5 separate regions of the Homo sapiens genome follow, and regions 2, 3, 4 and 5 are each reported to be linked to region 1. The links are microRNA targets in miRTarBase. Many come from high-throughput screens and were not tested one by one. Region 1 holds a microRNA gene; each other region holds the end of a gene's coding sequence.
What was found. The annotated mature microRNA hsa-miR-3155b reads CCAGGCUCUGCAGUGGGA and lies in region 1 at 2,230-2,247, opposite strand. An mRNA with a match to its seed (bases 2 to 7 or 8) in the 3' UTR can be bound and repressed. Matches are read on the target gene's strand: a 7mer-m8 pairs with bases 2 to 8, a 7mer-A1 pairs with bases 2 to 7 and ends in A, and an 8mer does both.

Region 2: the mRNA of LARS1 is a reported target of hsa-miR-3155b. Seed matches in the 3' UTR shown: 7mer-A1 at 3,866-3,872.
Region 3: miRTarBase lists GEM as a target of hsa-miR-3155b. Seed matches in the 3' UTR shown: 7mer-A1 at 791-797.
Region 4: miRTarBase lists VKORC1 as a target of hsa-miR-3155b. The part of its 3' UTR that is shown has no 7-base or 8-base seed match.
Region 5: miRTarBase lists GBP6 as a target of hsa-miR-3155b. Seed matches in the 3' UTR shown: 7mer-m8 at 3,240-3,246.

The regions. Positions count from the first base shown.
Region 1 is chr10:6,149,389-6,154,493 of GRCh38, reverse strand. It overlaps MIR3155A (microRNA 3155a), which reads right to left and starts at 2,298; the gene lies at 2,217-2,298. It overlaps MIR3155B (microRNA 3155b), which reads left to right and starts at 2,232; the gene lies at 2,232-2,287. It also overlaps a transcript of PFKFB3 not described here and the pseudogene RN7SKP78. RefSeq lists an enhancer at 2,879-2,928.
Region 2 is chr5:146,109,407-146,114,511 of GRCh38, forward strand. LARS1 (leucyl-tRNA synthetase 1) reads right to left here. Exons shown (of 32, transcript NM_020117.11): 32 at 3,628-4,905. The coding sequence ends at 4,700. Among named protein-coding and RNA genes, the nearest start is that of PLAC8L1, 6.4 kb to the left of the region's middle.
Region 3 is chr8:94,245,796-94,250,900 of GRCh38, reverse strand. It overlaps GEM (GTP binding protein overexpressed in skeletal muscle), which reads left to right. Exons shown (of 5, transcript NM_005261.4): 5 at 314-1,648. The coding sequence ends at 591. Among named protein-coding and RNA genes, the nearest start is that of GEM, 14 kb to the left of the region's middle.
Region 4 is chr16:31,086,895-31,091,999 of GRCh38, reverse strand. It overlaps VKORC1 (vitamin K epoxide reductase complex subunit 1), which reads left to right. Exons shown (of 3, transcript NM_024006.6): 3 at 658-1,146. The coding sequence ends at 866. PRSS53 (serine protease 53) reads left to right here and starts at 3,057. Exons shown (of 11, transcript NM_001039503.3): 1 at 3,057-3,248; 2 at 4,174-4,194; 3 at 4,301-4,463; 4 at 5,102-5,105. The coding sequence starts at 3,191. RefSeq lists an enhancer at 2,880-3,380.
Region 5 is chr1:89,384,677-89,389,781 of GRCh38, forward strand. It overlaps GBP6 (guanylate binding protein family member 6), which reads left to right. Exons shown (of 11, transcript NM_198460.3): 11 at 554-3,484. The coding sequence ends at 793. Among named protein-coding and RNA genes, the nearest start is that of GBP6, 23 kb to the left of the region's middle.

The DNA of each region.
Region 1 (5,105 bases):
GGCAAATCACTTGAACTCAGGAGTTCAAGACCAGCCTGACCAACGTGGTGAAATTCCGTCTCTACTAAAAATACAAAAAAATTAGCTGGACGCGGTAGCATGCACCTGTAATCCCAGCTGCCCTGGAGGCTGAGGCAGGAGGATCGCTTGAACTCGAGAGGCAGAGGTTGCAGTGAGCCGAGAACGCGCCACTGCACTCCAGCCTGGCCAACAGAGTGGGACCCTGCCTCAAAAAAAAAAAAAAATTAATTCAGCCCACACCTCCACCAAAACCCTCCCAGGCCTTCCTGTCTCCAGCTGAGAGGCCAAACAAGGCCCTACCATGGGAGATGAGGACGTGCTGAGCCGCCACTCCCTTCCTAAGCCTGTGTCCACCTGGCTTCCACCCTCTCACCCTGCAGAAGCGGTGCTGGCCCGCAGGTTCCTCCTGCACTCAGCCGCTCTGGCCACAGGACCTTTGCCTCGCACTTCCCTATTTGGACATGCTCCTGAGCTAATGGTACTGTCTGCTGCCTCACTCCCCTCAGGCTGTCTCACTCCCCTCAGTCTTGGTCCAAATGTCCCCTGGAGTGACCATCCTGTGTGCAACCACAATCCTCCCTCCCGGTCCCTGACTCCCTCTCCCCTCTCTTTTTTTTTTTAGATGGAGTCTCGCTCTGTCTCCCAGGCTGGCGTGCAGTGGCGCGATCTCAGCTCACTGCAACCTCACCTCCCAGGTTCAAGCAATTCTCCTGCCTCAGCCTCCTGAGTAGCTGGGATTACAGGCACCTGCCTCCACACCCAGCTAATTTTTGTATTTTCAGTAGAGACAGGGGTTTCACCATGTTGTACAGGCTGGTCTCGAACTCCTGACCCCAACTGATCCGCCTGCCTCGGCCTCCCAAAATGCTGGGATTAGAGGTGTGAGCCACCTCGCCCAGCCCCTCCCCCTCCTCTTTCCTGAGTTATTTTCTTCTTGGCATTCACATCCATTGACACATGCAGCGTTCACCTGCTCACCAACCCAGGGAGGTCACCATGACCTCCTACCAGCCACTCAAAGCATCTACCAAGGACCAAGCCACACAGGCTTACCCCATTCACATGTAAGCTCCATGGCCGAGGTTTGTCTGTTTTGTTCACTGCCGCAGCCTCTGCACTTACATCCGCCCCTGGCCTACTGGGCACTGCTGAAAGGACCGAAGAGCTTATGGAAGTGACTTCAGTTGCATCATAAATGAGGGTAGGCACCCGCAGGACAGGGCAGCCCATCGGCCTTTCAATTACATTTCTTGCTTTTCTCTGTTCTTATTTCTTTCTTTCTTTCTTTCTTTCTTTTTTCTGAGACAGAGTCTCGCTGTGTCTCCCAGGCTGGAGTGCAGTGGCATGATCTTGGCTCAATGCCTTCCAGTTCAAGCAATTCTCCTGCCTTAGCCTCCCGAGTAGCTGGGATTACAGACACCCACCACCATGCACAGCTAATTTTTTTGTATTTTTAGTAGAGATGGGGTTTCACCATGTTGATCAAGCTGGTCTCGAACTTCTGAGCTCAGGTGATCTGCCCACCTCAGCCTCCCAAAGTGCTGGGATTACAGGCGTGAGCCACCGTGCCCAGCCTCTTCTTCCTTTTTTTAAAGACAAGGTCTCTTTCTGTTGCCCGGGCTGGAGTGCAGCGGTACGATCAAGGCTCACTGCAGCCTCAACTTCCCAGGCTCAGGCAATCCTCCCACCTCAGCCTCCCAAGTAGCTGGCACTACAGGCACATGCCTCCACACCTAGCTAATTTTTTAATTTTTTATTTGTAGGGACAGGATCTCACTATGTTGCCCAGGCTGGTCTCACTCTCCTGGGCTCAAGCAATCCTCCCACCTCAGCCTCCCAAGTAGCTGGGGCTGCAGGTGTGTGCCACTGCACCTGGCATACATTTCTCGCTTTTCTACTGAATTTCCTCAGCTACCAGATCCGCAGCCCTCCTCTATTCATGGGTTCGGAATGTTCCTCGTGCAAACGTCCCAGAGAGATTTAGCCCTTGCAGGTGGCTAGTTATCGTGATGCCTTCCACCCTCCTACCAGACGCTTCCTCCCCTGCTGCCTGGCTTGGGGAGCCTCCATGGAGGCTCAGAGGCTCCACAGCAGTGTGGACGGGTAAAGCCTCCAGCAAGGCTTCTGCCTCACTTGGACCACCTAGAACTTGCCGCAGGACCTGAATCACACTGGAGACCGGCTGCAGGAACTGTTCCAGGCATCAGTTCCCACTGCAGAGCCTGGGAAGGGAGCTGTCCGGCTCCCCAGGCTCTGCAGTGGGAGGTGATGCCCGGAACAGGCATCTCAAAAGTGTGGGTCACCACCCATTAGTGGCCTTGAAATCAATTTACTGGAATAAGACCAGAATCTTTCTTAATGAAATGGAACAGACTAGAAAACATCAGCATGTACAGTATTGTCTGAGGTGAAGTATTGTTTCAGGACATTTTTTGTCTAGGCATCAAGGCAGAAACTATCAAATCAGAATTTCTGGGGCATCAGGTTTTTTTTTTTTTTAGCTCCCCAGTTAATTCTAATGTGAAGCCAGGAACAGGAGCTGCAGGAGGGCGGTTCTGTCCTTCCGAGAAACAAGGCGTCCCCACCACGGCTGTGAGCCAGTGCCTGCCGCCCGACAGCCACAGCACTGTGGCACTGAGGACCAGCTTTCCCTGAAGTCCGCCTGCATCAAACAGGTCTACCCCATGCCTAGGCAAGACCTTCCTCTTTCTCACTTCCTTTTGAAAGTCCACACTTCTCAGGGAGCGGGGAGGGTACCCTCCCGACTTCCCGTTTGCCCCTGCCTGCCTGATTGGATCTTTCTCCACTGCTGTGGCTGGACAAGCCTCTGGGACGACTTCAGCAGCCTCAGGAGAGGACTTCCAGAATCTGATCGCCAGGGGTCAGTATCTCAAGCAGACAGTCACGACAGCAGACCAACTCCACCCTAAGAAAGCACAGTTGTCAGTCACCCCTCAAACAGAGGTAGCACCCCAGTGTCCTCACCAATGCAAGGGGCCACAGCCTCTGGGAAATCTGCTTCTTGCTTCTCTGGCCGAGGACTGGGGCATACAGGACCTCACTTTCTGACAAGTGAGTGTTGAAGCCCAGGCCAGGGGGAAGTGTGTTTTTGAACTGTCATGTCAGAGCACCTTCCGGAGCTACAGCTGGAAAGGCTGCTTGCGGAAGTGCCAGGACGACCAAACCCCGCTGCTCTTCAGACACCTTGTGGCTGCCCCAACCAGAACCTTGGATGCTCCTGGGGCCACGCCCCCTAGCTCAGACCCGCACACAAGATACCACCAAGACTCATACACACTGCCAGTGGGGAGCTACGGTAAGTGGGATGGTGTTCCACAGACTGGGGCTCCCTCCCTGTGTCCGTCTCCCTGCTGTCCTGGTCCACCGTCTCAACCGCCCAGCTGGAAATCTTGGAACTCTTCCCCTGCCGTCATGAATGATAGGCAATTTTTGCTTTTTGTTGTTGTTGTTCTGAGACTGAGTTTGGCTCTGTCGCCCAGGCCAGGGTGCAGTGGCAGGATCTTGGCTCACTGCAATCTCCGCCCCCCCAGGTTCAAGCGGTTCTCCTGCCTCAGCCTCCGGAATAGCTGAAATTACAGGTGCCCGCCACCATACCTGGCTAATTGTTCATACTTTTAGTAGAGACGGGGTTTCACCATGTTGGTCAGGCTGGTCTCAAACTCCTGACGTCAAGTGATCCACTCGCCTCGGCCTCCCGAAGAGCTGGGATTACAGGCGTGAGCCACCACGCACAGCCTGGGTATTGTCTTTATTTTAAATTACGCATGGGGAAATGCCATCATCTTTCAGCATTTAGGGTTTATAAGGATTTATTATTATTGTTATTTTTGAGACAGTCTCGCTCTGTCGCCCCGGCTGGAGTGCAGTGGCCACGATTTCAGCTCACCACAACCTCCGCCTCCTAGGTTCAAGTGATTCTCGTGCCTCAGTCTCCTGAGTAGCTGGGATTACAGGCGCCCACCACCACGCCCAGTTAATTTTTGTATTTTTAGTAGAGACAGGGTTTCACCATGTTGGTCAGGCTGGTCTCGAACGCCTGGTCTGAAGTAATCCTCTGACCTTACTCAGCCGTCCAACGTGCTGGGTTACAGGCATGAGCCACCGTGCCTGGCCTATAAGGATCTTAATGTGGCTCTGCAACTACTCATTCCAAAAGAAAATGACAGATTAACCAAGTAGAAGAATTTATGAAACACTTGCTACCACCAGGTCCAATATAAGCATGAGGTATAGACCGTAACTCAAATAGCTCTCCAAGTTACCATGCAGAAAGCATTCTGAGAACAAATGAGTGTTCCGGTCTGGTTATGGGACAAGATATGCCTGCAAGAGGTGCTATGTGCATAGAATCAATGGAAAAGGTGACAGAAAAGGCATGAACTTAAAAGGCGTGAAGAGACATCCAAACCCCAAGTTTATTGCAGCGCTATTCACAACGGCCAAGACATGGAATCAACCTAGGTGTCCAACAACAGATGAATGGATACAGAAAATGTACATATACAACATGGAATACTACTCAGCCATAAAAAAGAGTGAAATCCTTGGGATGGAACTGGAGGATATTATAGTAAGGTCACACAGTGCATTTTGAGAGCTTGTTTGGAGGTTCTAGCAGGGGAGTGCAGCTACTCGTGTACCCTTGACTGAAGATGAGTCCTCCTCTATTGGGGATGGTCATCCTCTTGGACCGAGCACACAGCTTTGGGAGGGACGCACATGGAGTGGTGAGGGAGGAAGGGGACACCCACCTAGCCAGCCAGATCAGCCAAATCAACCCTGACGATTACTGGGGTGACAGATGTCACAGCCAGATTGCCCTCACATCCCACACAGTGCATTTTGTATCTTTTTTTTTTTTTTTTGAGAGGGAGTCTCACTCTGTCGCCCAGGCTGGAGTGCAGTGGCACGATCTCGGCTCACTGCAACCTCTGCCTCCTGGGTTCAAGTGATTCTCCTGCCTCAGCTCCCCAGGTAGCTGGAATTACAGGCGCCCACCCCCACCCCTGGCTAATTTTTGGATTTTTAGTAGAGACAGGGTTTCACCATGTTGGCCAGCCTGG
Region 2 (5,105 bases), not on the chromosome of region 1:
CAACAGAAATGTATTGCTAGTTTTGGAGGCTAGGAAGTCCAAGAGGAAGGCACCAGCATATTCAACTTCTGGTGAGGGCCCATTCCTTATAGCTGGTGCCTTGTGTGTCCACACATGGCATAAAGGCAACAGGACTCCCTCAAGCCTCTTTTGTAAGAGCACTAATCCCATTCATGAGGAAGCCACCCTCATGACCTAATCACCTCCTACAGGCCCCACCTCTTAATACCAACACCGTGAAGATTAAGTTTCAACATATAAATTCTGGGGGGACATGAACACTCAGATCATAACAGCAGGATATTCATATAAGCCTCAAAGTATCAGCTCACAGACTACTTAATTACAAAAAGGAAGAGTAGCTTTTCAACCGAGAAATATGATGCTAATCAAATCCACAATACATTAATCCTGACATGATCCAGTGGGAAACATCACCTATGTAGTAATCTTGCCAAGAATTTTAAATCTGATTACAACCATGAGAAAATACAGAAATCCAGATTGTAAGCATCATGCTAACGACCAGCTTGATGTCTTCAAAGATGTTACTGTCATGAAAGATCAAAAAAAGAACAGAGAAACTACCCTAGTTTAAAGGAGATTAACAGACCTAACCACAAAATGTAATACTTGATCTTTGAATCCTGAGAGTTTTTCAAAGAACACATTATTGATGAGACATTGGGGAAGTTTTACTAGAAAAGCTTATTACCTAATATTATTGTATCATGTTAAATTTCTTGGGCATAATAACAACACTGTGATTATATAGGAGAATGTCCAAGTTCTTAGGAGTTGCGTGATAACCTATGGGAAGATGAAGTGTCATGGTGTCTGTAACTTACTGTCAAATGGTTCTGAATTTTTAAAAAATATTTTCTAAATACAATGTGTTATCCTGGATAGGATCCCATAATAGTAAAAAAAATTAATAGAAAAATTGGTGAAATCCAAACAAAGTATACAATTTAGTTAATCATAATGTACTCATGTTAATTACTTAGTTTTAACAACTAAACCAAGGTTAAGTAAGATGTTAACAGGAGAAACTGTGTAAAAGATGTACAGGATCTCTCCATATTAAAGATGCAACTTTTATGTAAGTCCAAAACTATTCCAAAATTAAAAGTTTATTTTAAAAATAGATACTTAGAGAGATAAAGTAAACGTGACACAATATTAACAATTGGCAAATCTAGGTGACAAGCGCATGGATGTTTACTGGCCAATTCTTTCCACTTTTCTGTAGGCTTAAAATTTCTCGAAATGAAGTGTTAAAAGAAAATAAAACTACTGAAGGTTAAAAGTAAATGAATGGAAAAGATAGTCTGCATGGACGTTAACCAAAAGATAACTGGTGTTACTATATTGTTAGGCAAAGTGGTCTCTAGGCAAAAAATAAATTAATTAAAAATAAAGAGAAATGGCCGGGTGCAGTGGCTCACGCCTATAATCCCAGCACCTTGGGAGGCCAAGGCAGGTGGATCACGAGGTCAGGAGTTCGAGACCAGCCTGGCCAAAATGGTGAAACCCTGTCTCTACTAAAAATACAAAAATTGTGGGGGGACGGGGGAGGGATAGCATTAGGAGATATACCTAATGCTAAATGACAAGTTAGTGGGTGCAGCACACCAGCATGGCACATGTATACTAACCTGCACATTGTGCACATGTACCCTAAAACTTAAAGTATAATAATAATAATAATAATAATAAAGAAAAAGAAAAAAAATACAAAAATTAGCCGGGCGTGGTAGCAAGTGCCTGTAATCCCAGCTACTCGGGAGGCTGAGGCAGGAGAATCGCTTGAACCTGGGAGGCAGAGGTTGCAACGAGCCGAGATCGTGCCACTGCACTCCAGCCTGGGCAAAAAAGAAACACTTTCTAACTAGAAAAAGTTCAACTTACCAGAAGGAATATAATCTGAATTTATATGTACCTAACAAAACAGCCTCAAAATATATAAAACAAAAACTGTCAGAATTATAACAAGATACAGGTAAATTTCATTGTCATGAGAGATTTTGGTATACCTCTCAAAAACAGAAAGAGAGAAAACAGTAAGGATATAGGTTTGAACAATTCAATCCACAACTCTGACCTAATGGACACATACAGTACTTTTGCATTTACAGAATATATATTTTTTTCAAGCTCAAATGCAACATTTATAAAAACTGACATATACTGGGCCAGAAAGCTTATCTCTAGCGACCAGAGAAGGCAAAAGGCAGACCTCTGTGGTGCTGGCACTGTGCCATTCTTCAACTGTTTGGTGACTGTGCAGGTGTTTGCTTTATTAATAAATTCTTTTTTTGGAGGTGGGGAGAGAAAGGAAGTTCATTTTTTGTGTGTGTATATTTTTTGCTCACTTTTTGTGTATGTGCATTGTATTTCAAAACTTAAAAAGAGTTAAAATCCTCTAGGAAGGCACTAACATAAGTTATATATAACATTATTATTATGCACCCAATTATATTATTGTTAATAATAGAATAAGCCCAGTGTAGCCTGTTTTTCCTTCAGCATTTCAACTAACTGCTGGTTCTTCTGTTGAGTACCAGATGAAGTAATGGGCTTATGCTCAGACGACTCCTTATACAAAACATTTGTATCTCTACACATAAGAAGCATATTCAGCACAGCAAGAAGCTTATTCTAAGAGAGACACACAGAAATCAAGACTGAAAAAACAAAGGATCCATGAATCTCAACTCACACCTAATCCAAAACAGTACAGGTTCATAAGATGAACACAATCACAATATTATTTTCCTTTCTCTCTCTTTTTTTTTTTCTGGCCAAGCACACATAGTTTAATTTTCCTAAGTTAAACACAAGTAGGTTTGTGTTTAGGCAACAGAAAGTATTACTTAATTTCAGAAATAATTAAGGCTTTGCAGATCAGAGAGGACAGCAAAAGAATCTAGAGGAGTGCAAAGAAAGAATCAGTTGCCCCAAAGGAACCAACACAAAGGACATGATTACAGACTACAGTAATCTGAAGCCAATATACCTTGGTATCCATCATCTTCTTCTTCTTCAATGGTAACATTCACTAAAGACTTACTACTTGCCAGGCACTGTGTTATGATTTTCCTAGATCAGTTCACCTAAACGTCTCACAATAAGCCTACAAGGTACCAGTATTAGTTCCATTTTATAGATGAAGAACTGCAGCTCCGAGTAATTGGCCAAGAGCATCCTAGTAGCAAAAAGAAGAACTGGAAATCTAACCTAGCTAGTCTGATTTCAGAGCATGCGCTCTTACCCCACTATGCTATAGTGCCTGTCCCTAGTAGATAAGTGATTATTTGCACTTGATGATTTCTAATTCTAACATCCTATGATTGGCTTCAATAAATCTGTGATAAACCATATGACTAGGCCTAGTGGTCCCTAACTGCGGAGAGCAAAATAAGGAAGCTCAATAAACTCTATTTACATAACCGCAGTTAGAATTCAGGTTCCTCTGGGTTATCAAAATTGTTCTTTCTCCATATTAAACCCATCAAAATTAGAAATGTTTCTCCTGTTAGTCAATGCCTTACATTTTTTCCTCATATGAAGACAGATGGCGCAGATATTAAAAGACACTCCAACAAGAATAAAAGAATAAATCTGTAATAGTCAGCATGACCTCTATTTTATTGATTGATTGATGGATTGATTGAGACAGAGTTTCACTCTTGTTGCCTAAGCTGGAGTGCAATGGCACGGTTTCAGCTCACTGCAACCTCGGTCTCCCAGGTTCAAGCGATTCTCCTGCCTCACACTCCCAAGCAGCTGGGATTACAGGTACCCGCCACCATGCCAAGCTAATTTTTGTATTTTTAGTAGAGACGGGGTTTCACCATGTTGGTCAGGCTGGTCTCAAACTCCTGACCTCAGGTGACTGCCCACCTTGGCCTCCCAAAGTGCTGGGATTATAGGTGTGAGCCACCACACCCGACCAGCATGACCTTTAAACACAATTGGACTTAAGACAAATTTAGTAAATGCAGATTTCTGGGGGGGAAGGGGGGAATCTTCTTTTAAAATGCCCATATTTAGTGTAGGTGAAATATACTGCTTATAAACTATTGATATTAGCCTTGAAGAAGCCATTATTGGTTCTTAGTTGAATAATTAAAGCTTTAAAAAGTCTTATAAAATGCAGGACCTATTTGTTCTTTATACAAAATACTTAGTAATTGAAGTCAAGTCAAAATATTCTCATTAGTTCTTTTAAATCATCATGAAGTTCTCTTCATTTAAAAAAAAAAGCTGCTAATTTACTACTTTTCTTTTTTAAAAAAAAATACAGCTAACTCCATAAATGAATATACTATAAAAAGCTGTTAGGTACACCTTAGCCTTCATCAAAGTATAAAGTACACCTCATAAAAGAAGCATACTGACACTTTTATGTTCATCTTAAAAACCAGAAACTTCTAGGAAATAGCAACAATTTGTTTTTTAAAAAGAGTTTGGCAAAAACCATTTCTCTTGGACACCCAAAGAAAGGGAAAAAAAATTTATTAGGTCCAGGAATCAAAGATGACTTGATAGAATTATGAATACATGCAGAATTGGATGGTTAGAAATGAAATCAATCTATTTAGGTCCAGCCTAAGGTTCTGATAGCCAATCAGTAGACACAATCAGAGTAGTAGTATTCCTAAGAAACCAGGATAAATCTCCAATGTGCATGAGTTTAATGAACCAGATAGATTATTGTATCGCCAATATCCACCCTTATCCCATTCTCAGTCAGATGAATTTTCTTGCTCATGAGGTCCACATTGAAAACAGCATGCTCAGAAATGGGGGTCTTCTCGGTGTACTCCTTTCCCAGGACAGGAACTCGTCGAGGCCCCAACAGTGGATCATCAAATCTCATCAGTTTCACTTTGGAAAGGTCTACAACAAAATAAATTATCAATATAAGCATTTAATTACAGTCACTCAAACCCTGGAGCAGTCTGAGAACTCACGTTTTAAATACGCTGGTTGTTATATCTAAACAAAAATATTTTCTTCAGATTATTAAATAAAAGCCACGCTGGGTGCGGTGGCTCACACCTGTAATCCCAGCACTTTGGAAGGCTGAGGCGGGTGAA
Region 3 (5,105 bases), not on the chromosome of region 1:
ACATTGTAAGTCAGCAGTAAATTAAGGGTATGGCTTTTACTGTTATAACTAATATCACTATATTTGATGAAATGGGACCTTCAGACAGTGAATTTATGGGGGATCAGATCTAAAGCCCATCTCCCTTACTTCCAGGGACCCTCCAGTGAGACATTTTCTATTCATGCCCTGGGAGGGCCCATGCCGCAGCAGCATCCTCTATCCACTGCATATACAGCTGACTTAGTGTTACCTCGAAGAACCATCCAGCTTGACTGTGTGCTATGTGGGACTGTGCTCTGCAGTCCCTCTGACCTCTTTCTTTCCTTCCCAGAAGGGAGAGCCTGTGCAGTGGTGTTTGACTGCAAGTTCATCGAGACCTCTGCAGCTGTCCAGCACAACGTGAAGGAGCTGTTTGAGGGCATTGTGCGACAGGTGCGCCTTCGGCGGGACAGCAAGGAGAAGAATGAACGGCGGCTGGCCTACCAGAAAAGGAAGGAGAGCATGCCCAGGAAAGCCAGGCGCTTCTGGGGCAAGATCGTGGCCAAAAACAACAAGAATATGGCCTTCAAGCTCAAGTCCAAATCCTGCCATGACCTCTCTGTACTCTAGGAACCCAGGGTCACCCAGATGTCCCTTTGATGGCCGTTGTTGAAGGCCATTGGGACCAATAATCTATATTAGATTGAATACTTAAGTTAGATGTGGTTTCCCCCATTGTAGCAGGGAGCTAGCGTATTAGCCTTGTGGGCAACATGATGCATGGGAAATGAAAGATTTTTGTAAAAAGTCAGTATTTATTTCCAGGAAAAGCCTGACCTTGCTATTTGAACACCCAAGACTCTTTAGAGGATGTGTTTGGTGTTCACATGTGTTTCTTCTATTTTGGATAGTAGAGAAGTAAAGCTTACAAAGAATGCCTAGAACAAGAACTTTTCATCATTAAAAATTTTTCCCAGTGTTCTGATATGTGACTTTGAGGCCAATGAGTCATAAACAAATATAAGAAAGCTGTCAATGAGTTTCTTCAAAGGAGGGAAAACTTTCTACGAATCTAAGATCCATGGAGCTAGAATTGTAGAACTAGGCTCATCAGAATCGTGACTATTATTGCTCCATCAAACTGTGAAAAGAAATGATGTGGACCTTGCTGGAAACAAAGGCTTAGCAAACAATTTTTGTTCAATGCCCACCAAGACATATAGAATTGGGAACTGATACATGTGTCCCTTATAGGCTCAAAAATTATATCTTACAATTTCTTATTTAGGGGGAAATTATTTGAATCAGATTCTATTTAGTCAAACCACCTTTTATGTTTTATTATTTTTGAATTCATGGAGCCATCATAAAAATATTTTTAAAATCAGAATTATTGATACCCTGTAGTGCAAAATGTCAATTTTTAATGTATAATCAGAAGTCTGAATTTTTATAAAACATATAGCATAAAAACTTCCAGTACTTTGGTTGACCCTTGTATGTCACAGCTCTGCTCTATTTATTATTATTTTGCAAAATAACCATTTTAACATTTGATAAAGCATATTTATGAACATATTTCTTAATAAGAAAAATATCCATTTTATTACCATTTTCTATCTTTTTCAAAATATGCAAGTTTTTACCTATATGTCTTATAATAAAAGAAATAAAATATTTGAAAAAAGGCATTCTTGATTGATTTTCCTCCCCAAACAAGATGATTAGGATTATTTTTATACAGCCTTTAGAGCAAGCACATTCCAAAGAGACATATGCCTATTGTTTTCTTTCTTTTTCTCACTAGCAATAGCCCAGTCATTATCCGTTTTAAAGGATATCCCTGACATCTCTGCTTTGAAATCACGATTCACGGTAATGCAAAGTTGTTTTTGGCTGATACCGTTGGGAAGTATTTGGGGTCATCTCAATGCTGTTATAGGAAAAGCCAGATTGACCTTTTACTTTGGTCTGGCAAATGCCTGACTGAACAGATGGGCTTCACTTTGCTCCCTGGAGGCTGATGGTCTTAAGCTTGACTAAGGCATTAGAGGAAGTTATAAAGGATTAGGGGGAAATAAAATAAAGGAATCTAGTGATTTCCAGCCTGAGATCTAGCCAGGCAAAGCTTTCACCAAATTCTCCTCTCTGACATTAATATGGCTTGACATTAATCACTTGGCATCTATCCAGCGGCCGTATGCAGCCCTTTTGCTGGAATGGAACTTCTGGTGTTCTCCCTTCACATCTTCTCTGGCCCTATATGCACCCTATTTCATTCTCTTCTCCCTAGCTTTTTGAGTTTGTAGTGAGACACACACTGATGGTGACAATCATGGGACTTCAGACATTCCCTAAAGCTACACAGTTGTTGTTTTCTTGAGACGGAGTCACTGTGTCACCCAGGCTGGAGTGCAGTGGCGTGATCTCGGCTCACTGCAACCTCCGCCTTCTGGGTTCAAGCGATTCTCCTGCCACAGCCTCCCAAGTAGCTGGGACTACAGCATGCACCACCACGTCAGGCTAATTTTTGTATTTTTAGTAGAGACAGGGTTTTACCATATTGGCCAGACTGGTCTTAAACTCTTGACCTCAGGTGATCCGCCTGCCTCGGCCTCCCAAAGTGCTGGGATTACAGCCACAAGCTATCACGCCTGGCCTTAAAGCCACGCAGTTTTAAAGGGTGTCTGCTCTGTTTTCATTGCCCTTTCTCCCCTTTTTCCAAGTTGAGCACAAAGGTTCCCATCTCTCTGCACTTTGCATCTTAGAATTGCTCAAGGCAATAGCATGGGGAGATGATACAAGTAAAGATTCAGGTTACATAGATCTGGGGTGAATTTTGGCTGTGGAATTTAGCAACATGGCTTTGGAGTAAAGGTTAAAGGTTTCTAGCTATCAGTTTTCTCATCTACCAAATGGGATTGCTAATAATACCCACTTGGTAAGGTTAACATCTTTGTGAGATTAACATCTTTTAACCTGCCATACAGTAAAGAGCTCAAGAGATCTTCCTTTTCATGGTTGCACATTTTCCATTCCGTATCATTTAGAGTTAGTTTTACATGTCTGTTTCCCCTAATTTGAATGGAAACTCCTTTGAATCAGGGACCACCACTCTGTTCCTCCTTACCCTTCTACTCATCAGTGCAGCGCACTGCATATACTGGGATTTTACGAACTTTCTTCTTGAGCTTCATAGATCCTCCCAACACCTATGTGAGGTCAATAGGCCATCTCACAGCAAACCAGTTCAGGTGGATAAATGACTTGTCCAAGTTTGTTCAGATGCTAAGTGTCTGAGCTAGGACTGAGGTCCACCTGTGACTCCTGGTCACTTGTATATTCTTATCTCCAAAACTTTCCTATAAACACAGCCTGTTTCATCCCCAGGTATCATCCTATACACAGAATACACAGACACACACACACACACACAAAATGCATATATATTCTTTACACTATTTTTCTCACAATCTCAAGCTTCCTCATCACTTCTTTTAGACCTTCCCAACCAAATGGCCAACAGATGCCAAGGCTCCAGGTTTAAGGGTATGTTCAAGGTTGTCATGATCACATTCCCTTGGCTTGAAGCAGGGCAGGATAATGCCGGCTGCAATCCAATCCAAGAGGATTTTTGGTTAAGAGCTTTAGCTCCAGGGTTAGACAAACCTGGGTTTCAATCTGGTTTCATCACTTACTGGATGTGTGGCCAAGAGTCAAGTTCTTTACTATCTCATAGCCTCAGTTTTCCCATCTGTAACATGGGAAGAATGCCCACCTCATAGGGTTGTGGTAAGGATTATGTGAGACCTGCAAAAGTTATGTCATCATCTCAGGGACAGCACTGACTCTGCCTGCTCTAGTGCAGCATCCACACCTTCACACATTCATGCATTCTTCAAATATTATTGGACACCCAGGTGCTAACAGCTGCTGGGAATATAATGATGGCTAAGATATTATCCTCATCCTCAGAGATCTCAAGAGTAATAAATTTGTCCTGAAAAGCCAAAGGAGGTAGCACTGGTGATAGGAAGAAAATAAAGAAATTGTGAGAGGATTATACCAGGAAGGGACTCAATTTTTATTCATTAGATAAAATTCAAATGATGAAAACGTTTGTTAAGATGATTGAGTTAGATGTGGAAAAGAAAATTGGGCCATTTAAAAAATTCCAGTTGGGAAAAGTGGGAGCATTGGGGAAAGGTGAGTTTTTAAGCATCCTACATTTTTGCTTACAAATACATGAACTATTCAATGCAGAGAAAGATGCAGATGATTCTAAATTCACTTGGGCAAATTTGTGGAGCTCCGGCTTAAGAAAAGTACTGTGGAGAACACATGGTGGGAGGAGGCAGTTTTGCCTTTAAGGTGCTTGTAATATAGTTAACAGTGGCAGGAAGCAGATGTAGTAGGGAATGGAGACAACTGCACAGAAACCTAGAACGTGAGGTTGAAGATAATATGGGCCATCGGAGACATGTGCTGTAAGGCAGTTTAGCTTTGGTGGAAGAAAAATCCTTTGCTTGGCGTTGCAGTAATGAATGTCTTTTTTTTTCTTTTTCTTTTTCTTTTTTTTTTTTTTTGAGACAGAATCATGCTCTGTTGCCCAGGCTGGAGTGCAGTGGCATGATCTCAGCTCACTGCAACCTCCACCTCCTGGGTTCAAGCAATTCTCCTGCCTCAGCCTCTGAGTGGTTGGGATTACAGGTAGGTGCCAACACGCCCGGCTAATTTTTGTATTTTTTGGTAGAGACGGGGTTTCACTGTGTTGGCCAGGCTGATCTCGAACTCTTGGCCTCAAGTGATCTGCCTGCCTTGGCCTCCCAAAGTGCAGAAATTACAGGCGTGAGCCACTGCACTGGCCCATGGATGTCTTCTTAGAGGAAGTGATGTTGAGCTTCATCTTGAAGACTACACAAGATTTCCACAGGTAGGATTGGTTGAAAGGAAGAAAAAGGGAAAAACTGGCCTATGTAAAGAAAATAGCATGAGCAATGACAGAGAGGCAGGAAAGGGAGAAATCTATATAGAAAAATGAGAGAAGTCCAATTTGGCCGGGAGCTTTCTGGGAGGCGTTAAGTGAAGGTGTTAATGTATGATGCTTGATAGCCTGAGAGATTTAGTTTCAAATTCTTACTTGT
Region 4 (5,105 bases), not on the chromosome of region 1:
CACCATGTTGGCTAGGATGGTCTCAATCTCTTGACCTGGTGATCCATCCGCCTTGGCCTCCCAAAGTGCTAGGATTACAGGCGTGAGTCAACCTCACCGGGCATTTTTTTTTTGAGACGAAGTCTTGCTCTTGCTGCCCAAGCTGGAATGTGGTGGCATGATCTCGGCTCACTGCAACCTCCACCTCCTAGGTTCAAGCGATTCTCCACCTTAGCCTCCCCAGCAGCTGGGATTACAGGTGCCCATCAACACACCCGGCTAATTTTTGTATTTTTATTAGAGATGGGGTTTTGCCATGTTGGCCAGGCTGCTCTCGAACTCCTAACCTCAGGTGATCCACCCCCATTGGCCTCCCAAAATACTGGGATTACAGGCATGAGCCACCGTGCCCAGCTGAATTTCTAAATTTTTGATAGAGATCGGGTCTTTCTATGTTGCCCAAGCTGGTCTTGAACTCCTAGCCTAAAGCAGTCTTCCCACCTCGGCCTCCCAGAGTGTTTGGAATACGTGCGTAAGCCACCACATCTGCCCTGGAGCCTCTTGTTTTAGAGACCCTTCCCAGCAGCTCCTGGCATCTAGGTAGTGCAGTGACATCATGGAGTGTTCGGGAGGTGGCCAGTGCCTGAAGCCCACACCGGACCCTCTTCTGCCTTGCAGGTTGCCTGCGGACACGCTGGGCCTCTGTCCTGATGCTGCTGAGCTCCCTGGTGTCTCTCGCTGGTTCTGTCTACCTGGCCTGGATCCTGTTCTTCGTGCTCTATGATTTCTGCATTGTTTGTATCACCACCTATGCTATCAACGTGAGCCTGATGTGGCTCAGTTTCCGGAAGGTCCAAGAACCCCAGGGCAAGGCTAAGAGGCACTGAGCCCTCAACCCAAGCCAGGCTGACCTCATCTGCTTTGCTTTGGCATGTGAGCCTTGCCTAAGGGGGCATATCTGGGTCCCTAGAAGGCCCTAGATGTGGGGCTTCTAGATTACCCCCTCCTCCTGCCATACCCGCACATGACAATGGACCAAATGTGCCACACGCTCGCTCTTTTTTACACCCAGTGCCTCTGACTCTGTCCCCATGGGCTGGTCTCCAAAGCTCTTTCCATTGCCCAGGGAGGGAAGGTTCTGAGCAATAAAGTTTCTTAGATCAATCAGCCAAGTCTGAACCATGTGTCTGCCATGGACTGTGGTGCTGGGCCTCCCTCGGTGTTGCCTTCTCTGGAGCTGGGAAGGGTGAGTCAGAGGGAGAGTGGAGGGCCTGCTGGGAAGGGTGGTTATGGGTAGTCTCATCTCCAGTGTGTGGAGTCAGCAAGGCCTGGGGCACCATTGGCCCCCACCCCCAGGAAACAGGCTGGCAGCTCGCTCCTGCTGCCCACAGGAGCCAGGCCTCCTCTCCTGGGAAGGCTGAGCACACACCTGGAAGGGCAGGCTGCCCTTCTGGTTCTGTAAATGCTTGCTGGGAAGTTCTTCCTTGAGTTTAACTTTAACCCCTCCAGTTGCCTTATCGACCATTCCAAGCCAGTATTGGTAGCCTTGGAGGGTCAGGGCCAGGTTGTGAAGGTTTTTGTTTTGCCTATTATGCCCTGACCACTTACCTACATGCCAAGCACTGTTTAAGAACTTGTGTTGGCAGGGTGCAGTGGCTCACACCTGTAATCCCTGTACTTTGGGAGGCCAAGGCAGGAGGATCACTTGAGGCCAGGAGTTCCAGACCAGCCTGGGCAAAATAGTGAGACCCCTGTCTCTACAAAAAAAAAAAAAAAAAAAAATTAGCCAGGCATGGTGGTGTATGTACCTATAGTCCCAACTAATCGGGAAGCTGGCGGGAAGACTGCTTGAGCCCAGAAGGTTGAGGCTGCAGTGAGCCATGATCACTGCACTCCAGCCTGAGCAACAGAGCAAGACCGTCTCCAAAAAAAAACAAAAAACAAAAAAAAACTTGTGTTAACGTGTTAAACTCGTTTAATCTTTACAGTGATTTATGAGGTGGGTACTATTATTATCCCTATCTTGATGATAGGGACAGAGTGGCTAATTAGTATGCCTGAGATCACACAGCTACTGCAGGAGGCTCTCAGGATTTGAATCCACCTGGTCCATCTGGCTCCAGCATCTATATGCTTTTTTTTTTGTTGGTTTGTTTTTGAGACGGACTTTCGCTCTTGTTGTCCAGGCTGGAGTGCAATGGCACAATTTCGGCTCACCACAACCTCCACCTCCCAGGTTCAAGTGATTCTCCTGCCTCAGCCTCCCGAGTAGCTGGGATTACAGGCATGCGCCACCAGGCCTGGCTAATTTTGTATTTTTAGTAGAGACAGTGTTTCTCTATGTTGGTCAGGCTGGTCTCGCACTCCCGACCTCAGGTGATCTGCCTGCTTTGGCCTCCCAAAGTGCTGGGATTACAGGCGTGAGCCACCATGCCCGGCCAGCATCTATAATATATGCTAAACCTTACCCACAGCTGCCTCTGTCTTGGGGTCAGGGTTCTTGAATGGTCTGGGCCAGCCTGAGTTAGGAGTGGGAAGAGGAAGAGGAGGCACGCGCCAAAGTGTTCTTCCCGCCTGACCGAGTCCTCTGCGCCTATGAGGAAGGTGGGCACCGCTGTCACCCTGTTTCCCAGGAAGCCAGCAGGCCCAGGGAGATACTGGGATTTGCCAAAGGCTCACAGCGAGCAAGCAGCAGTGGGTGCTGGCTCCTCACCACTCAGCCTGGCACACACTGTCTCTGAGCAGACCTGGGAGAAGGCATGTGAAACCCACCTAGCCCTGGCTGGAAGAGAAGTGGGGGAGTGGAAATGAAAAGTGGGGACTGGGAGGAGCTGCCCACGTGCCCTCCATGGTTCCAGGATGGCACTTTCATGCTGGGAGTGAGCTTGCCCTGTGCCAGGCTGTCATTGAGACGTTTTCCATTCAACAACTGTTTCTCAGACAAGGCACAGGCAGGTTAGCTCTCCCAGGCCACTCAAGTAGTAAGGAAACAGATTTAAACCCAGACAATTTGGCTCCACGGCTAAGGCCCAGAGAGGGGTGGTGACAAGCCTAGGGTCACACAGCCACAGCCCCAGAGCTAGGAACTGCTGGCTAGGGCAAGCAGACAGCTGAATCCTAGCCAACTGGAGGTGGAGCAGAGGTGGAGCCAGGGAGACCCAGGTGGCCTCTCTCAGAGTGGAGCACAGGTGGCAGAGTGGCCCGGGGCAGCATGAAGTGGTGCTGGGGCCCAGTGCTGCTCATCGCGGGTGCCACAGTCCTCATGGAGGGTAAGCCGCCATGTGCTGGGGTATGGGTGTGGCCTGGTGGGGGCTCAGGGGCCATCTCTGCCCCAGCAGTCCCTGCTTCTTGGTGGGGGGACCGCCTGTGGGCGACAGTCCACCAGTGGGGATGTAACTCCGTAGGACTCTGTGGGGTGGTATATGTGGCCACCTGTGTCAACATGGATGAGATTTTCTCGGGCCAGCTGCAGTTTGCGTTGGCGGGGCCTGTGGTCTTGTGTGTGTGTGAGGTGCTGCCTGCGTGTGTCCTGTGCCTGCCTCCCCCTCGACTTCCACAATGACGTCAGGCAAACTCTGGGCTCCTCTGGCCTCAGTTTCCCTTTCTTTTCATCCATCCTCTGGGCAGCCTGGCTCAGCTGTCTCATGGGGTGCCTGTGTGCCTGTGAGGGGCGGTGGGCAGGGGCCCTCTCTCTGGCGGGCTCTCAGACAGTTTCTGGGAAGGTGGGGAAGACTGAGTCTCTAGACCAGGGTGAGGTAAGTCTCCATTTCTTGGGGCCCTCCCCACTTGGAAATGATGCAGGCCTCTAATCCTTCCTCTTAGGCCTCTGCTGCTAAGAGGACAATTAAGCTAATGCTCTCTACACACACAGGCCGCCTGGCTGACTCAGTGGCGGGGGCAGGAGTTGGGGGTTCTGAAGCCTGGAGGAGGGCTGGCCTACTCCCAAGCTGAACCCCAAGCCCCAGAGTGCTGAGCACAGCTGAAGGAGAATTAATTACTGAGTGTGCACACTGAATAGGTTCCAATAAAAGCTGTCTCGGCCTCATATAAATATTTTCATTCTGGGAGGGGCTGGTAAGGTAATCAGAGTCACAGGCAAGGACCCTGGGCCCGCCCCCCAGCCCATCCCCTCTCCTCCCCAAAGCTAGGCAGGCCTGGAGTCCCTGCATCTTACCTGTGTCTCTCTCTTCCCAGGTCTTCAAGCCGCTCAGCGTGGTAAGGTCTGGGGACACGGGGCCTAGGTCTTACTTGGGTCTGGGTTGGGACTGGGGTGAGGTCAGGACAGGTATCTGCTGTCAGTGTGACTAACTCCTTTCCACAGCCTGTGGACAGCGTGGCCCCGGCCCCCCCAAGCCTCAGGAGGGCAACACAGTCCCTGGCGAGTGGCCCTGGCAGGCCAGTGTGAGGAGGCAAGGAGCCCACATCTGCAGCGGCTCCCTGGTGGCAGACACCTGGGTCCTCACTGCTGCCCACTGCTTTGAAAAGTAAGTCATGGCTGGGGTCAGGCAGGGTCTCCGGCTCTGGGGAGTGGACAATTTGTCTCAAGCCCCACAAGGCTAGTCCCTGCCTCTAGAGTAATAATAAAGAACCATTTACTGAGAATCTGCCATGTACTGGGTACATATTGTCAAGTTAATTGTAACAACCACCTTTCATGGTAGAAGATTTACAAATCAGAAAACTCAGGTTGCAAGGGAATGACCTCGCTTAAAGTCACAGACTGAGGCCGGGCACAGTAGCTCACGCTTGTAATCCCAGCCCTTTGGGAGGCCACGGAGGGAGGATCGCTTGAGCCCAAGAGTTCAAGACTAGCCTGTGCAACATAGCAAGACCATGTCTCTACAAAAACTGTAAAATTAGCCAGGCATGGTGGTGCACGCCTGTAGTCCCAGCTACTCACGAGGCTGAGGTGGGAGGATCGCTTGAGCCTGGGAGGTCAAGGCTTGTAGTGAGTCATGGTCATGCCACTGCACTGCAGCCTGGGCGACAGGACGAGACCCTACCTCAAAAAGAAAAAGCCGTGGAGTGCTCTCTGCTATCTTCCACCTACCTGTGGGGTCTCCCATGGTGTCACTGTCTACCCTTGCACTCAGCAGCCTGGACCTTGTCCTTCCCCTTCCAGGGCA
Region 5 (5,105 bases), not on the chromosome of region 1:
TCCAAACACCCTGAGGTAGATCCATGCTGACATACAACTCTTAGAAATTTCCAGACTTAAAAGGACAGGAAAGGGACAGTTTCTAAACTTGCTGCAGTTGTCACCCTGTATAGGTAGCCTGCCCAAATTAGCACACAGTGTAGGGAGAATTCTTGCATTGTCCATCTGAAAGTTCTCTCATAAGGGATTTCTACATCAGCTTATAAGTTTTTGGTATTCCTACAATATGGGTGACCATGCTGCCCAACTGGGACTGAGAATTTATGCAATCAGACCAATGGCTACCTCCTAACTGGCATCTTTTGGGCAGGAACATGTAGAATTTGTCCTCATACCTAGGTTAGCACCATAGCAAAACCATAATGGTGGGTGGATATTAGTAAAGTTATAAACTATGCTTCCTCACAATGTCTAGGTCCAAATTCTCCTCTAATAACTGAGAAAATGTTTTTAGGAGTAAAATAAAGTTTCACACAGGTTTTAAATACAAAATGTAAGTCTTAAAAGAATAGGGATTTTTAAAAATTTACTTTCCTTCCTACATTGTCTTTAGGTCCAAAATGATTGGCTTCATGAAGGATTTAAGAAGAAGTATGAGGAGATGAATGCAGAGATAAGTCAATTTAAACGTATGATTGATACTACAAAAAATGATGATACTCCCTGGATTGCACGAACCTTGGACAACCTTGCCGATGAGCTAACTGCAATATTGTCTGCTCCTGCTAAATTAATTGGTCATGGTGTCAAAGGTGTGAGCTCACTCTTTAAAAAGCATAAGCTCCCCTTTTAAGGATATTATAGATTGTACATATATGCTTTGGACTATTTTTGATCTGTATGTTTTTCATTTTCATTCAGCAAGTTTTTTTTTTTTTTCAGAGTCTTACTCTGTTGCCCAGGCTGGAGTACAGTGGTGCAATCTCAGCTCACTGCAACCTCTGCCTCCTGGGTTCAAGAGATTCACCTGCCTCAGCCCCCTAGTAGCTGGGATTATAGGTGTACACCACCACACCCAGCTAATTTTTGTATTTTTAGTAGAGATGGGGTTTCACTATGTTGGCCAGGCTGGTCTCGAACTCTTGACCTCAAATGATCCACCCGCCTCGGCCTCCCAAAGTGCTGGGTTTACAGGCATGAGCCACCATGCCCAGCCCTCATTTAGCAAAGTTTTAAACATAAAAAGTGCTTATTAGAGGATATCAGTGCCTGGCCCACATGAGAGAACAGATCCATACACACTTTGAAAAACTTTGTTCACTTTTAGGAAATATAATTTTGAAAAATCATTTACATACAAGAGGTCCACTGAGGCATTGCTTTTAATGGCAAAATATTGCAATGTACTTGAATGTCCTTCACATTAGATTGGTAAGATAAATTTTAGTATGTGCATGTACTGGAATATTATATAGCCAGTAAACAAATTGACAATGAAGCTCTATTTGTACCAGTAAAGAATGGTCTTGAAGAGACATTGTAAAATGAAAAAAAAAAAAACCAAGTTGTAAAGCAATGTAGATTATCTTATCAGCATGGAAAAAATGCAATTATTATATGGAAGCATGCAAATATATCTCTGGAAAGATTAATCAAAATCTATTATTATTGGCTCCTTCTGGGAAGAACCAAGTGAATGTAGGGGTTGAAGGAACACATACTCTTCACTTTATACTCTTGAATTTTGTAAAGAAATCTTATTTTACCGATTCAGAAATAAATAAGAAAATGTAAGAGACAATGCTAATAATGATAACAATAAAAAAATAGTGAAATTGGCTATCAGATGATGAAATTCCTTGTTGCTTCTAGGAATTACATCAGCCAGCCCAATGAGGGGTCTAAGACTAAGATCTGAGTACTAGAATGCAAAAAATTTGCATCATATTCTTGTTTTCATTTTGGCCTGGTTTTTCGATCCCTTCTATTTGTTTCGAGACTAAGGCATACACTTTTCTGTGGCCTTTGAAATCTCAGCTACAGTAGCCTCTACTTCCTTTCTCTGAATTCAAGTTTTAAGGTGTTAGAAGCATAAATTACCAAACATTAAGATTAAGCACTGATAGGAAGGATCCTGCCAACCTTGTCAGTAGTGGTCTTTTTGCGGTAGCCTCAGATAGAAAGGACAATGTGCCTTTCCAGAACTGAACCCCCTGATGGGGGATGATAGACCCAGACACATAGAGGCCTGGTGTTGACCCTTAATTGTTAGAATCTAAGAAGATTCAGTTATAGTAATGAGTGGCAGACTGCAAGGCCTGATGGAGATAATTCTGAAGATGGTCAATACAATGGACCAGCCATAGGGTTAAATGGGATGGGGAGAAAACAATCAAGTGAAGTAAATGCTGTCTATCAGGATGTTGAGAGGTAGCCCTGATAAAGTGTCACATCCATAGCCTTGATCTGAGCTAATTTCAGACCCTGAACTCAGTTGGAGTGGAGGGCAGTACCCCAGGAAAGGACACTGCAACTCCAGGACCCAAATAAATGATAATGATTTCCCAAGTTCTCCTCCTAGGAAACGTCTGGAGCCATTTACTAGATATCCATATACTAGGGAAATACAAACACCCAAATATTTCAAGGACCCTTGGAATCAGGATCCAAGTTGCCCATGGTACCTAGATCATGGAGAGTCATCGTAAAATGCCTGTTAAAATAGGGAATTAGGGCCTCCAGGTTGTAATTATAGTCTTGGCACACATGAACTTATTGCAATATAGTATTTGTTTGAAATGTAAAGGTAAAGTTTGTTTGAAGACAGATACCTTATTTTTCTGTACATCTCCTTGGGAGTATGTTCAGGCATAGGTTGTGCTAAATAAGCTTCTTTTATAAAAACAATAGGCTGATGCATGGGTGATTATTTTCAATTGATAAAATATCATGAACTTTCCAGAGATCAGTGGTAATAAGTTGTTTGAATTTTCGACACCAGATTAAGGTCTCTGAGGTGGTTTAAAGGCTATGAGGCCAGGTGCAGTGGCTCACGCCTATAATCTCAGCAACTTGGGAGGCCGAAGCAGGCAGATCACTTGAGGTCAGAAGTTTGAGACCAGCCTGGCCAACATGGCGAAACCCTGCCTTTACTAAAAATACAAAAATTAACCAAGTGTGGTGGCACACGCCTGTCATGCCAGCTACACAGGAGGATGAGGCAGGAAAATCACTTGAACCTGGGAGGTGGAGGTTGCAGTGAGCCGAGATTGTGCCATTGCACTCCAGCCCGGGCAACAGAGCCTGGGCGACAGAGTGAGGCTCTGTCTCAAAAAATTAAACTAAATTAAAGCTATGAGAAGAAAATAAATTTTCCTGGTATAGTGTCCTTCTCTAGACCTCATGTCCTACAGTCTCTGTGAAACTGGGCCAAAGATAGAATTTTTTTTTCTGTGCTTTATACAGTGACTCAGACAAACCTATGACCTCACACAAATCTGTAACTTCATGTATCACAGTCTCTATAAAACTATATCAAAGAAAGAATTTTTCTCTGTGCTTTATAGAGTGGTTCACCCAGATCTGTAAAGAAATGAAGACAATTTTAGAGCTTTCAATATCCTGTATTGCATATCAGGTCAAATCTGATACTTTCAAAACTGGATAGATCTATTTCAGATATCTTTGATGCTTTTAACAAGAATCCCATTCAATGTTATCTAAGGACTATAGTTCAAGAAGACTAAGACACTATTCAGTCGGGGCACAATAAGACCACCTTATAAGCACCACTCATCCTTCCTTTTCTGAGCATGCTTTTGCCATGTTTCAATGATTCAGAGACATTCTAGTGAATCCCATTTTGACAACAAAGTGGGATCAAGAGACCCCAAGGCCATCCTCAGGTTCAATGACTCTTTAGAAGACATGGAACTCAGAAAAAAAATTTTTTTGGGGGGTTTTCTTCTTTTTTCTTTTATTTTATTTATTTTTCTTTTATTATTATACTTTAAGTTTTAGGGTACATGTGCACATTGTGCAGGTTAGTTACATATGTATACATGTGCCATGCTGGTGCGCTGCACCCACTAACTCGTCATCTAGCATTCGGTATATCTCCCAGTGCTATCCCTCCCCCCTCCCCCCACCCCACAACAGTCCCCAGAGTGTGATGTTCCCCTTCCTGTGTCCATGTGTTCTCATTGTTCAGTTCCCACCTATGAGTGAGAATATGCAGTGTTTGGTTTTTTGTTCTTGCAACAGTTTACTGAGAATGATGATTTCCAATTTCATCCATGTCCCTACAAAGGACATGAACTCATCATTTTTTATGGCTGCATAGTATTCCATGGTGTATATGTGCCACATTTTCTTAATCCAGTCTATCATTGTTGGACATTTGGGTTGGTTCCAAGTCTTTGCTATTGTGAATAGTGCCACAATAAACATACGTGTGCATGTGTCTTTATAGCAGCATGATTTATAATCCTCTGGGTATATACCCAGTAATGGGATGGCTGGGTCAAATGGTATTTCTAGTTCCAGATCCCTGAGGAATCGCCACACTGACTTCCACAATGGTTGAACTAGTTTACAGTCCCACCAATAGTGTAAAAGTGTTCCTATTTCTCCACATCCTCTCCAGCACCTGTTGTTTCCTGACTTTTTAATGATTGCCATTCTAACTGGTGTGAGATGGTATCTCATTGTGATTTTGATTTGCATTTCTCTGATGGCCGGTGATGGTGCGCATTTTTTCATGTGTTTTGTGGCTGCATAAATGTCTTCTTTTGAGAAGTGTCTGTTCATGTCCTTTGCCCACTTTTTGATGGGGTTGTTTTTTTCTTGTAAATTTGTTTGAGTTTATTGTAGATTCTGGATATTAGCCCTTTGTCAGATGAGTAGGTTGCGAAAGTTTTCTCCCATTTTGTAGGTTGCCTGTTCACTCTGATGGTAGTTTCTTTTGCTGTACAGAAGCTCTTTAATTAGATCCCATTTGTCAATTTTGTCTTTTGTTGCCATTGCTTTTGGTGTTTTAGACATGAAGTCCTTGCCCATGCCTATGTCCTGAATGGTATTGCCTAGGTTTTCTTCTAGGGTTTTTATGGTTTTAGGTCTAACATTTAAGTCTTTAAGCCATCTTGAATTGATTTTTGTATAAGGTG